2 separate regions of the Homo sapiens genome follow, and region 1 is linked to region 2. Evidence: fine-mapped expression QTL. A gene starts in region 2. The other region holds a variant in brackets. All regions are shown on one strand. Distances are from middle to middle.

What was found.
Region 1: its variant is fine-mapped to the expression of GSTT4 in testis (GTEx, PIP above 0.99).

The regions. Positions count from the first base shown.
Region 1 is chr22:24,792,344-24,797,717 of GRCh38, reverse strand. No RefSeq gene overlaps it. Among named protein-coding and RNA genes, the nearest start is that of SGSM1, 11 kb to the left of the region's middle. The variant C/T (reference allele first, on the strand shown) is at 2,250.
Region 2 is chr22:24,002,370-24,007,743 of GRCh38, reverse strand. It overlaps GSTT4 (glutathione S-transferase theta 4), which reads left to right and starts at 2,291. Exons shown (of 5, transcript NM_001358664.2): 1 at 2,291-2,499; 2 at 3,897-3,984. The coding sequence starts at 2,388. LOC105372959 (a long non-coding RNA gene) reads right to left here and starts at 2,193. Exons shown (of 2, transcript XR_001755457.1): 1 at 2,152-2,193; 2 at 1-2,026.

The DNA.
Region 1 (5,374 bases), 790 kb before region 2:
GTAGATGGTGAGTGGTGAGTGACACCACAGTAGGTTTATGAATTTCTTTTTCAGGGCCTCCTAGGTATGGAGCAAGGAGCATTTTACAGGATGGGATGATGATGCTGTGTGAGCATGTGAAGGAAAGAACTCACTGGTAGGTGAATGATGTGAATGTGATTTCACAGAGTATGGGAACCCTGGACCCAGGGAATGAAGGCGGGAGGCTCCAGGGGAATTTTTAGAGAAAGCCTGGTGGCTCCTTTTGATGAGCAGCCCTGGTGAGCAGCAGGTTGATGAATGAAGTGATTTCACTGTAACAGATTTCCAAGTCTAAAATCGAGGATGTAAAGGAACCCTGCTTCTCCCCATAAATAGACAATCTCAACTTTTCTCTTCTTGATTTTCACTTAAGGCTGGATTTTTTTTTCTACTTTCTCCCAGATGAGTTTCATTCATTCATTCATTCATTCATTTTTTCAGTGTTTTGTTTGAGAGCCCACAATGTGCCCAGCATGAGGGACAGAGTATGAATAAGTCACATGATGTTGTTTCCTGCATGGAGCTCACATTTGAGCCAGGGGGAAGAGAGAGGCAATAATAAAGTGATCACATCAGCAAAATACCAGATTGTGGTCAATGTGATCAATAAAGCATGTGAGCTGGGTGGTGTGATAGTGAGTGTCCACGGGGTGACGTGGCCTGAGACGTGACAGATGGGAAGAAGCCAGTCAGGCTTGTGGTACTATTTGGGGAGGTGAGAGCATGACTGAGTTATGAATGGAGAGGGCAGCAGCGAGGCTGAGAGTTGGAGGAAGATCATTTTAGGTGCATGCAAGGGAGAACAGGTACAAAGTCCCCAAGGTGGGGATGAGCATGCCTAGACAAAGAAGAGAAAGGGTGCAGTTATATATATATATAAATATATATATATATATATATATATATATATATATATATATTTTTTTTTTTTTTTGAGATGGAGTCTCGCTCTGTCGCCAGGCTGGAGTGCAGTGGCACGATCTCGGCTCACTGCAACCTCCGTCTCCAGGGTTCAAGCGATTTTTCTGCCTCAGCCCCCCAAGTAGCTGGGATTACAGGCATGCACCACCACGCCTGGTTAATTTTTGTATTTTTAGTAGAGACGGGGCTTCACCATGTTGGCCAGGCTGGTCTCGAACTCCTGACCTCAGGTGATCCACCCGCCACGGCTTCCCAAAGTGCTGGGATTACAGGTGTGAGCCACAGTGCCCGGCAAGTGTGCAGTTATGACCGGAGTGCAGTGAGCACTTAAGGCCCCTTCAGCCCTTAACTCCGTAAAGGTAACCAGAAGAGTCTTGATTTCCTTCCTACACTCTTAGCCCAAATCTATCCATCAGCAACCCTTTTTAATTTATTATAGCAATATTCATATAAAATTCACCATTTTAAGCATTTTAAAGTGGACAAATCAGTGACATTCAGTACATTCAAGTATTGTGCAACTATCACCACTACATAGATCCACAATACTTTCGTTACTCCAGAAGGAAACCTCATACCCACTAAACAGTCACTCTTGTTGCCCCCGACTGCCATTAATCTGCTTTCTGTCTCTATGAGTTTACCTAGTCTGGGCTTTCCATATAAGGGGAACCATACAAAACAACCTTTTGGATCTGGCTTCTTTCACTTAGCATAATGTCTTTTGAAGTTCATACATGTTGTACCATTTATCAGTACTTCACTCCTTTTTTTTGAGACGGAGTCTTGCACTGTTGCCCAGACTGGAGTGCAATGGTGCAATCACAGCTCACTGCAAGCTCTGCCTCCCGGGTTCACACCATTCTCCTGCCTCAGCCTCCCGAGTAGCTGGGACTACAGCCGCCAGCCACCACACCAGGCTAATTTTTTGTATTTTTAGTAGAGATGGCATTTCACCGTGTTAGCCAGGATGGTCTCAATCTCCTGACCGCGTGATCTGCCCACCTCGGCCTCCCAAAGTGCTGGGATTACAGGCGTGAGCCACCGCGCCCGGCAGTACTTCACTCCTTTTTATGGCTGAATAATATTCCATTGTATGGCTAGACCACATTTTCTTTTTTTTTTTTTTTTTTTTTGAGACAGAGTCTCGCTTTGTCGCCCAGGCTGGAGTGCAGTAGTGTGATCTCAGCTCACTGAAAGCTCCATCTCTCTGGTTCATGCCATTCTCCTGCCTCAGCCTCCCAAGTAGCTGGGACTGCAGGTGCCTGCCACCATGCCCGGCTAATTTTTTGTATTTTTAGTAGAGA[C/T]GGGGTTTCACCGTATTAGCCAGGATGGTCTTGTCTCCTGACCTTGTGATCCGCCCGCCTCAGCCTTCTAAAGTTCTGGGATTACAGGCGTGAGCCACCGCGCCTGGCCTAGACAACATTTTCTTTATCCATTCCTCAGCTCATGGACGTTTGGAGAGTTTCCACCTTTTGCCTAATGTGAATGGTGCAGCCATGAATATTTGTGTACCGGTTTTTGTGTCTACAAATATTTTCATTTTCATTCTCATGGGTATATAACTAGAAGTAGAATTGCTGGGTAATATGGTAAATTTATTTATTTATTTATTTATTTATTTATTTATTTATTTATTGAGACGGAGTCTCGCTCTTGCCCAGGCTGCAGTGTAGTGGCGTGATCTCGGCTCACTGCAACTTTCACTTCCTGGCTTCAAGTGATTCTCATGCCTCAGCCTCCCGAGTAGCCGGGATTACAGGTGCCCGCCACCACACCCAGCTAATTTTTGTATTTTTAGTGGAGATAGGGTTTCACCATGTTGACCAGGCTGGTCTCGAACTCCTGACCTCAGGTGATCCACCCACCTTGGCCTCCCAAAGTGCTGGGATTACAGGTGTGGGCCACCGCGCCCGGCCTGTAATTTTTTTGTTTGTTTGTTTGAGACAGAGTCTCGCTCTGTCACCCAGACTGGAGTACAGTGGCGCGATCTCGGCTCACTGCAAGCTCCACCTCGCCAGTTCACGCCATTCTCCTGCCTCAGCCTCCCAAGTAGCTGGGACTACAGGTGCCTGCCACCACACCTGGCTAATTTTTTGTATTTTTTAGTAGAGATGGGGTTTCATCGTGTTAGCCAGAATGGTCTCGATCTCCTGACCTCGTGATCCGCCCACCTCAGCCTCCCAAAGTGCTGGGATTACAGGTGTGAGCCACTGCGCCTGGCCCCAGCCTATAATTTTATGTTTAACATTTTAGGAACCTTTGCACTCCCATAGTGACTACACCATTTTGTACTCCTAGCAGCAATGTATGGGGATTTCAATTTTTCCACATCTTTGCCAAAACTTTTAAAATGTATTATTATTATAGTCATCCTAGTGGGTGTGAAGTGATACCTCATTGTCATTTTGGTTTGCATTTCCCTATGAGTAATGTGTTGAACATCTTTTCATATGCTGTGAGCCATTTTTGTATCTTCTTTGGAGAAACATCTACGTAAGTGCTTTGCCCATTTTTTAATTGGGTTGTTTGTCTTTTTGTCATTGAGTTGTACAAATTCCCTATGTGTTCTGGATACTAGACCCTTATTACGTATGTAATTCATGAATATTATTTTCTTTCATTATTATTATTATTATTATTTTTGAGACAGAGTCTCGCTCTGTAGCCCAGGCTGGAGTGCAGTGGCGCCATCTTGGCTCACTGCAAGCTCTGCCACCCGGGTTCACGCCATTCTCCTGCCTCAGCCTCCCAAGTAGCTGGGACTACAGGCGCCCGCCACCACACCTGGCTAATTTTTTTGTATTTTTAGTAGAGACGGGTTTCACCATGTGAGCCAGGATGTTCTCCATCTCCTGACCTCGTGATCTGCCTGCCTCAGCCTCCCAAAGTGCTGGGATTACAGGCGTGAGCCACCGCACCTGGCCTGTGCTGTGGATTCCTTAAGATTTTTTATATTTAAGGTTGTATTTCAGGCCGGGTGCTGTGGCTCATGCCTGTAATCCCAGCACTTCGGGAGGCTGAGGTGGGTGGATCACCTGAGGTCAGGAGTTCAAGACCAGCCTGGCCAACATAGTCTCTACTAAAAATACAAAAATTAGCCGGGCGTGGTGGTGGGTGCCTGTAATCCCAGCTAGTCTGGAGGCTGACGCTGGAGAATTGCTTGAACCCAGGAGGCTGAGGTTGCAGTGAGCTGAGATTACACCACTGCACTCCAGCCTGGGCAACAGAGCGAGACTCCATCTCAAAACAAAACAAAACAACAACAACAAAAATAAGGTTGTATTTCTATATATGCGAATGTATATAGTTTTACTTCTTTCTTTCCAACTTGGATGCCTTTTGCTTCTTTTTAATATGATACAATGTTGCCTGATTGGCATGCCTAAAACTTCCAGGACAACGTTGAATGGAAGTGGTGAAAGAGAGCATTCTTGTTTGGTTCCTGCTCTTAGGGCAGAGCGTTGAATTTTCCACCGTTGAGTATGATTGATTCAGCCAGGCTTTGGGCCTTGAATCTGTCTACTTTCCTCTATTCCCACTCCCATTTGCCAGCCCATATCACTGCCTCTTAGCTGGGCGACTGCCACAGCCTTGTAAAGTGGATCGCCACTCTTCCCCCTGTTCTGAACCCCTCCTGTCAGTTCTTACACACGTCAATCTCTTCCTTCTGGGGTTCAGAGGATCCAGGTCCCTGCAGGCTTCCCCTTCGCATTTTGCTTCTTTCATAGCGTTTATCATGATTTTATTCAATTTTTTTTTTTTTTTTGAGACGGAGTCTTGCTCTGTCGCCCAGGCTGGAGTGCAGTGGCACGATCTTGGCTGACTGCAAGCTCCGCCTCACAGGTTCACGCCACTCTCCTGCCTCAGCCTCCCGAGTAGCTGGGACTACAGGCGCTCACCACCACGTCCAGCTAATTTGTTTTTATTTTTAGTAGAGACAGGGTTTCACCATGTTAGCCAGGATGGTCTTGATCTCTTGACCTTGTGATCCGCCCGGCTTGGCCTCCCAAAGTGCTGGGATTACAGGCGTGAGCCACCGCGCCCAGCCATTTTATTCTAGGTTTTAAATTTGTATTTTGTATAAAGCTCATTTCTATCAGTAGAATGTAAAACAATTCTGCATCTAGCAGTTCAATAGAGCAACTGTTTCTGTCTCTTAGGGTCTCTTCCTGTGTTGGCACCCCCAGGCAGTCATTGTTTTGTACTGTGTTACTTGATGTTGGCACAGAACTTTAAAGTGTATAAAGTGTTTTCACAGCCATCACTTGACCCTCACATTGACCTTGTGAGGTAAATGTCACAACCAGTTACAACGGATGTTTTCCATGCTGCACACAGAGCAGTTGGAGTCAATGAGACTAGTAACTTGCACAAAGACTGGTAGTAAGTGGCAGATCCAGGATGGCATGAAGGGCTCGGAGGTGACAAC
Region 2 (5,374 bases):
TGGACAACCTGAAGCCAGCGGGCAAGGCCCAGGCTTGAGGCTGGCTCCTCCCCAAATGTCCCCAGCTCATCCTTTCAGAGTCCTAGGAGCTGGGCAGACCCAGGGGAGACTCCACATTCAATCCCAGCTCACCACTTCCTCAATCCATGCCCTTGGGGAAATCACAGAACTTTGTGTGCCAGGTTTCTCCTCTGTAAAACGGAGTGGGAGGAATAATGTATCCACCTCCCAGGGCTTACCTGAGGATAGAAAATGGGCACCTAGTGTTCTGGGGCACTAGGAAGGGAACTTGGAGACCTTTTGGGCAGGGCCCACACGGCAGGCACTCTGAGTGGGGACCCTGATGCCAGGGAGTGGGGCCTGGGCACAGAGGGCAGGATGGTATGGTAACTGGGAGGGGAGGTGGAAACATGGGCCCAGGGAGGATCAGAGTTGGAAATGGAGAAACAGAGTGGTTTGGTCGTGGGGAGATACTGCCTGGAGGGAGTTGCAGTATAGGGGAGGTCCTCCCCTGAAGGTGAAGGTGGGGAGAAAACCTGGTCAAATCACCCTGAGTATGAGCAATGAAGCCACCTGGCCCTGACAGGCTGGAGAAAAGATCTCTGACACCCCCTGCCCACAGCATGGTCATCGTTTTATACCTGAGTCGAAAGTACCAGATACGGGGACACTGGTACCCACCTGAGCTGCAAGCCCGCACCTGCGTGGATGAGTACTTGGCGTGGAAGCATGTCACCATCCAGCTGCCTGCCACCAATGTCTACCTGTGCAAGGTGAGCTTCCTAGGCCCTGTCATGCAGGCTGGGGCAGGGGCCTGGACCCCCAGAGATGGAAGGCACCAGTTGGTACATATTACATATTAGCTTCACTTCCACTGTCCTCAGCAGACATAACTAATCTATCACAGTACTCCTTCCCCTAAGCCTGAATGAATCCTTAGAAACCTTCTGAACACAGAGCCCCAGAGGACATCACTAATGAGTGGCAGCCGGGAAGGGATGGAGAGGAGGCCCAAGAGGCTTCCAAGAGTCTGGGTTAAGTTGCTCCTCTCCTCCCAGCCCAGTCTCTCCTGCCCCACTTCTCCGGACAGCCTGCAGATGCTGCACAGCTGGAGCGGCTGTTGGGGAGGCTGATGCCAGCCCTGCAGCACCTGGATTGGGGGGTGCTGGTGGCCAGGCCCTTCCTGGCAATGGAGCAGATCTCCCTGGAAGACTTGGTGCTGACGGAGGTGATGCAGGTGAAGCTTTCCTACCCACCTGCCCTCTGGGGGGACTCTGGGCATGGGGCTGAGCCCCAACCCCAGCTGCCCTGTCTTCCCAGCCCACTGCCGTTGGCTGCGACCTCTTCCAAGACTGCCCCGGCTGGCAGTGTGGCAGGCCCGTGTGGCGGCTGCCCTTGGTACTGAGCTCTTGCTGGAGGCCCACAAGCTCATACTCCAGCCTCTGAACCACAGTGAGGCTTGGCGGGACCCCCAGCTGGCCCAGAAGCAGGTGCAGTGGGTGCAGCCCACTCCACTGCACCCTGCTGTCTGCAATAAACACACTGCATGCTCTTCGCTTGTCTCCAGGCTTACTCTGTCACCAGAAGTGGGGTCAGTCCCATTTCTCAGCCTAGACCTATTAGATCACAGCATAGAGTGAGTGGCACTCAGTCCTCTACGTGGGGCTCTAGTTACCTTCCTTGGCCACCAGGTACACAGTCTGGCCACTGCAGCCCCAACCAAGGCCAGGAAGTTTCTAGGCTCCTCTGTGTGGCACACACCGGCTGAGTGCCCCCTGACTTCCTGGTGGTGGTGTCCCCATTGCTCCCAAAGCTCACAGTTTCCTGTGTCTCTTTCTCCCAGTTCCTTTCTAGTCATAGTTCAGGCTCGATTCACCTGTGTCTCTTTCTCCCAATTCCTTTCTAGTCATAGTTCAGGCTCGATTTACCTGTGGATACTCCCAGCCTCTACTTCTAGAATCCTCCAGGGATAATTCTCATTGCCTCCTCTTCATTCTGGACCCTGCAAAGCCCCTTTCGTCAGGTTCTGCAATGAAAATCCAGCCGTGGGAATTCCCAGGCATAATCCCTTCTCAGACTGGTGTCTGTGAGGTGGCACCACGGGGCACAGGCACACGTGGAAGGGGGAGAGTAGGGTCACGGCTGCCACACCTTTGCCACGGGCCTCTCCCCAGCCTACTCCTGGGCCTCCTTAGAATCCTTGATGCTGTGAGAATTGCAGGCTTCCTGGCCTTATGACAACACAAAGGGAAACAAGAGGTTTCCCTGGGGAACACAGGATCCTGGGCCCAGATCGGAGAGGGCACAGGGCCAGGGACTCTGGCCAGACATAGGCCCAGGTCTGTGGCTGGCCAACTGCGGCTGTGGGGCCTGGCATGTGTCTCAACATGGCACTGGAGCTCTACATGGACCTGCTGTCAGCACCCTGCCGTGCCGTCTACATCTTCTCGAAGAAGCATGACATCCAGTTCAACTTTCAGTTTGTGGATCTGCTGAAAGGTCAACTCCCACTGCTGCCTGGCAGGCCTGGTCCTGGGGGGAGGCAGGACACACAGATTGCGGCTTTTCTTTTTTTCTTGTTTTTTGATGGAGTCTCGCTCTGTTGCCCAGCATGGAGTACGGTGGTGCTATCTCGGCTCACTGCAACCTCTGCTGGGTTCAAGTGCGTCTCCTGCCTCAGCCTCCCAAGTAGCTGGGATTAGAGGTGCATGCCACCACGCCCAGCTAATTTTTTGTATTTTTAACAGGGGTTTCACCATGTTGGCCAGGCTGGTCTCAAACTCCTGACCTCAAGTGATCTGCCCACCTCAGCCTCCAGAGTGCTGGGATTACAGGCGTGAGCCACCGCGCACAGCCTGATAGGGGCGTTTCTGAGGAGCAGAGACAGAGACAAGGGAATCACCCCAGAGGTCCACAGGGAAGGAAAAGATGCCACGCGGCTTGTAGGCTGCATCCTTGTCCAGCCTACCTTAGTCAGTGCTCACTAATGACAGTCCCCACGCCACAGATGAACAGGCTTTTCGAGGAGAAGGGGGAAGGAACAGTAGCTGGGACTCCCTGGGCTCCCACCAGGCACCCTGGCTTCCTTGTGGGATTCTAGGACCTTGTGAACTCAGCACCTGCCCACCAGGTTGGCAAAGGGGGCAGAAGTGCACAGTCCGTCTACACCCATCCTCCCCAGTGTTGAGAAAGGCTCAGGGCTCCACTAACCCTGAGTGAGGGTCAGAGGGGTGGGCTCCAACTCCATCCCCAGCACAGAGGGACTCCAAAAGCTCAGCCTGCAAAAGCAGAAGCCTCTAGAACACAGAGGAAGAGACAGGGAAGCTGTGGAAATGAACGGGCTGCGAGTGGAGCCCCCAGAAATGTTTCCAACTGGAGGCGGCTGGTCCAGGAAGAGTTTCAGTTCCTGCCCCCACCTCAGGTTCCCTGTTAAGATGACCCTGATTGTGTCCGAGAAGCTTCCCTTTGGATGTCCAGCTGTGTGCTGGGCCTGGCTTCCTTAAAGTGGAGACAGAGTGAGAGCGATGGGATTGCGGATGGGACCCAGGCCCTCAGGGCTTCAGGTGATTCAAAGGCTGTGTTTTCAGATCCAGCTTTGGGGGTGGGCACTGGAGGCCTCCAGCTTCTGGGTAAAAGGGTCGTCCTGGTCCTGGGACACAGGTAGGAGGCACGGGAGTCACCAAACCTAGGGTGGAGCAGGCTGGGAGCCAGCAGTTCTGATCGCAGTCCGGTTCTGCAACTGCCTTGCCCTGTGACCTGGGGTGAGACGCAATGTCCCTCCGGGCCTCAGTTCCCTCTTCTTGAGAAAATAGAGAGGGAGGCGTTTGGGTCTCTGGGAGTCTCAGTTCTCTCTCCCCTGGAGTCCCACAGCCTCAGACCTTCCCTGCCCCTCCCAGGTCACCACCACAGCAAAGGATACATTGACATCAACCCCCTCAGGAAGCTGCCCAGCCTCAAAGATGGGAAATTTATCTTAAGTGAAAGGTAAGTCTTCCCTGGGGCCCTTGCACCATCTGTCTCTGCTTCTCCTGGGAGGTTCAGTGCAAGCATTTGTCTGTTTGACCATGGAAAATCTCACACGTGCACTAAAGGAGAGTGAATACTAACTAATGAGGGACACGAGGAACCCCACAAATCCATCGCCCAGCTCTGACTCTTGCCAACTTGGGGTCCAGTTTACATCATTTCTATTCCCCTGCCTCCCAGACACCCCATCATTCCATTCATAAATGTTTAGAAGCCAGCTCATGCCTGTAATTCTAGCACTTTGAGAGGCTGAAGTGAGGGGATGGCCTGAGCTCACGTGTTCAAGACCAGCCTAGCCTAGACAACATGGCAAAACCCCATCTCTACAAAAAATACAAAAATTAGCCAGCATGGTGGTCTGCACCTGTAGTCCCAGCTACTCGGGAGGCTGAGGCGGAAAGACTGCTTGAGCCAGGAGGCAGAGGATGCAGTGAGCCAAGACTGCGTCGTTGCACTTCAGCGTGGGCAACAGAGTGAGATCCCATCTCAAAAATAAAAATAAATAAGTAAATAAATCAATAAATGTTTAGGAACATACTTTTCAGAGATAAGAGTTCTTAAAACAAACAAAAAAAAAGCAACAGGCTGGGTGTGGTGGCTCATGCCTATAATCCCAGCACTTCCAGAGGCTGACACGGGAGGATCGCTTGAGGCCAGGAAGTTCAGAACTGCAGTGAACTCTGATTGCGCCACTGCACTCCAGCCTGGGCTAGGATAGAGCGTAGCATCACTACGATACCATTAAGATACCTCATAAAATTAACAATAATTCCTGGATTTCATCTAATATGTGGCTCCTGTTCAAAACTCTATGATTATCTCCTAAACATTTTCTTGGCAGTTTGTTTGGATCAGGATCCAAAGAAGTTTTTTTTTTTTTTTTTTTTGAGACGGAGTCTCGCTCTGTTGCCCAGGCTGGAGTGCAGTGGCGCTATCTTGGCTCACTGCAAGCTCCGCCTCCCGGGTTCACGCCATTCTCCTGCCTCAGCCTCCTGAGTAGCTGGGACTACAGGTGCCCGCCACCATGCCTGGCTAATTTTTTTGTATTTTTAGTAGAGACGGGGTTTCACTGTGTTAACCAGGATGGTCTCGATCTCCTGACCCCATGATCCCCCCGCCTCGGCCTCCCAGAGTGCTGGGATTACAGGCGTGAGCCACCGTGCCCAGCCAAGAAGTTCTGAGTCTTGCAGCCAGTTGCTGTCTCTCCTGCCACTTTTTAACCGATAGCTCTCTCCATGCCCTGACCTTTTTACCTTGGCATGGTTGCTGCTGGTGATGATAAAGGAGCCCTTGTTCTGCGGAGGTTCCCACACCAGCCATCAATCAGCAAGGCCTAGGACATCCCCTC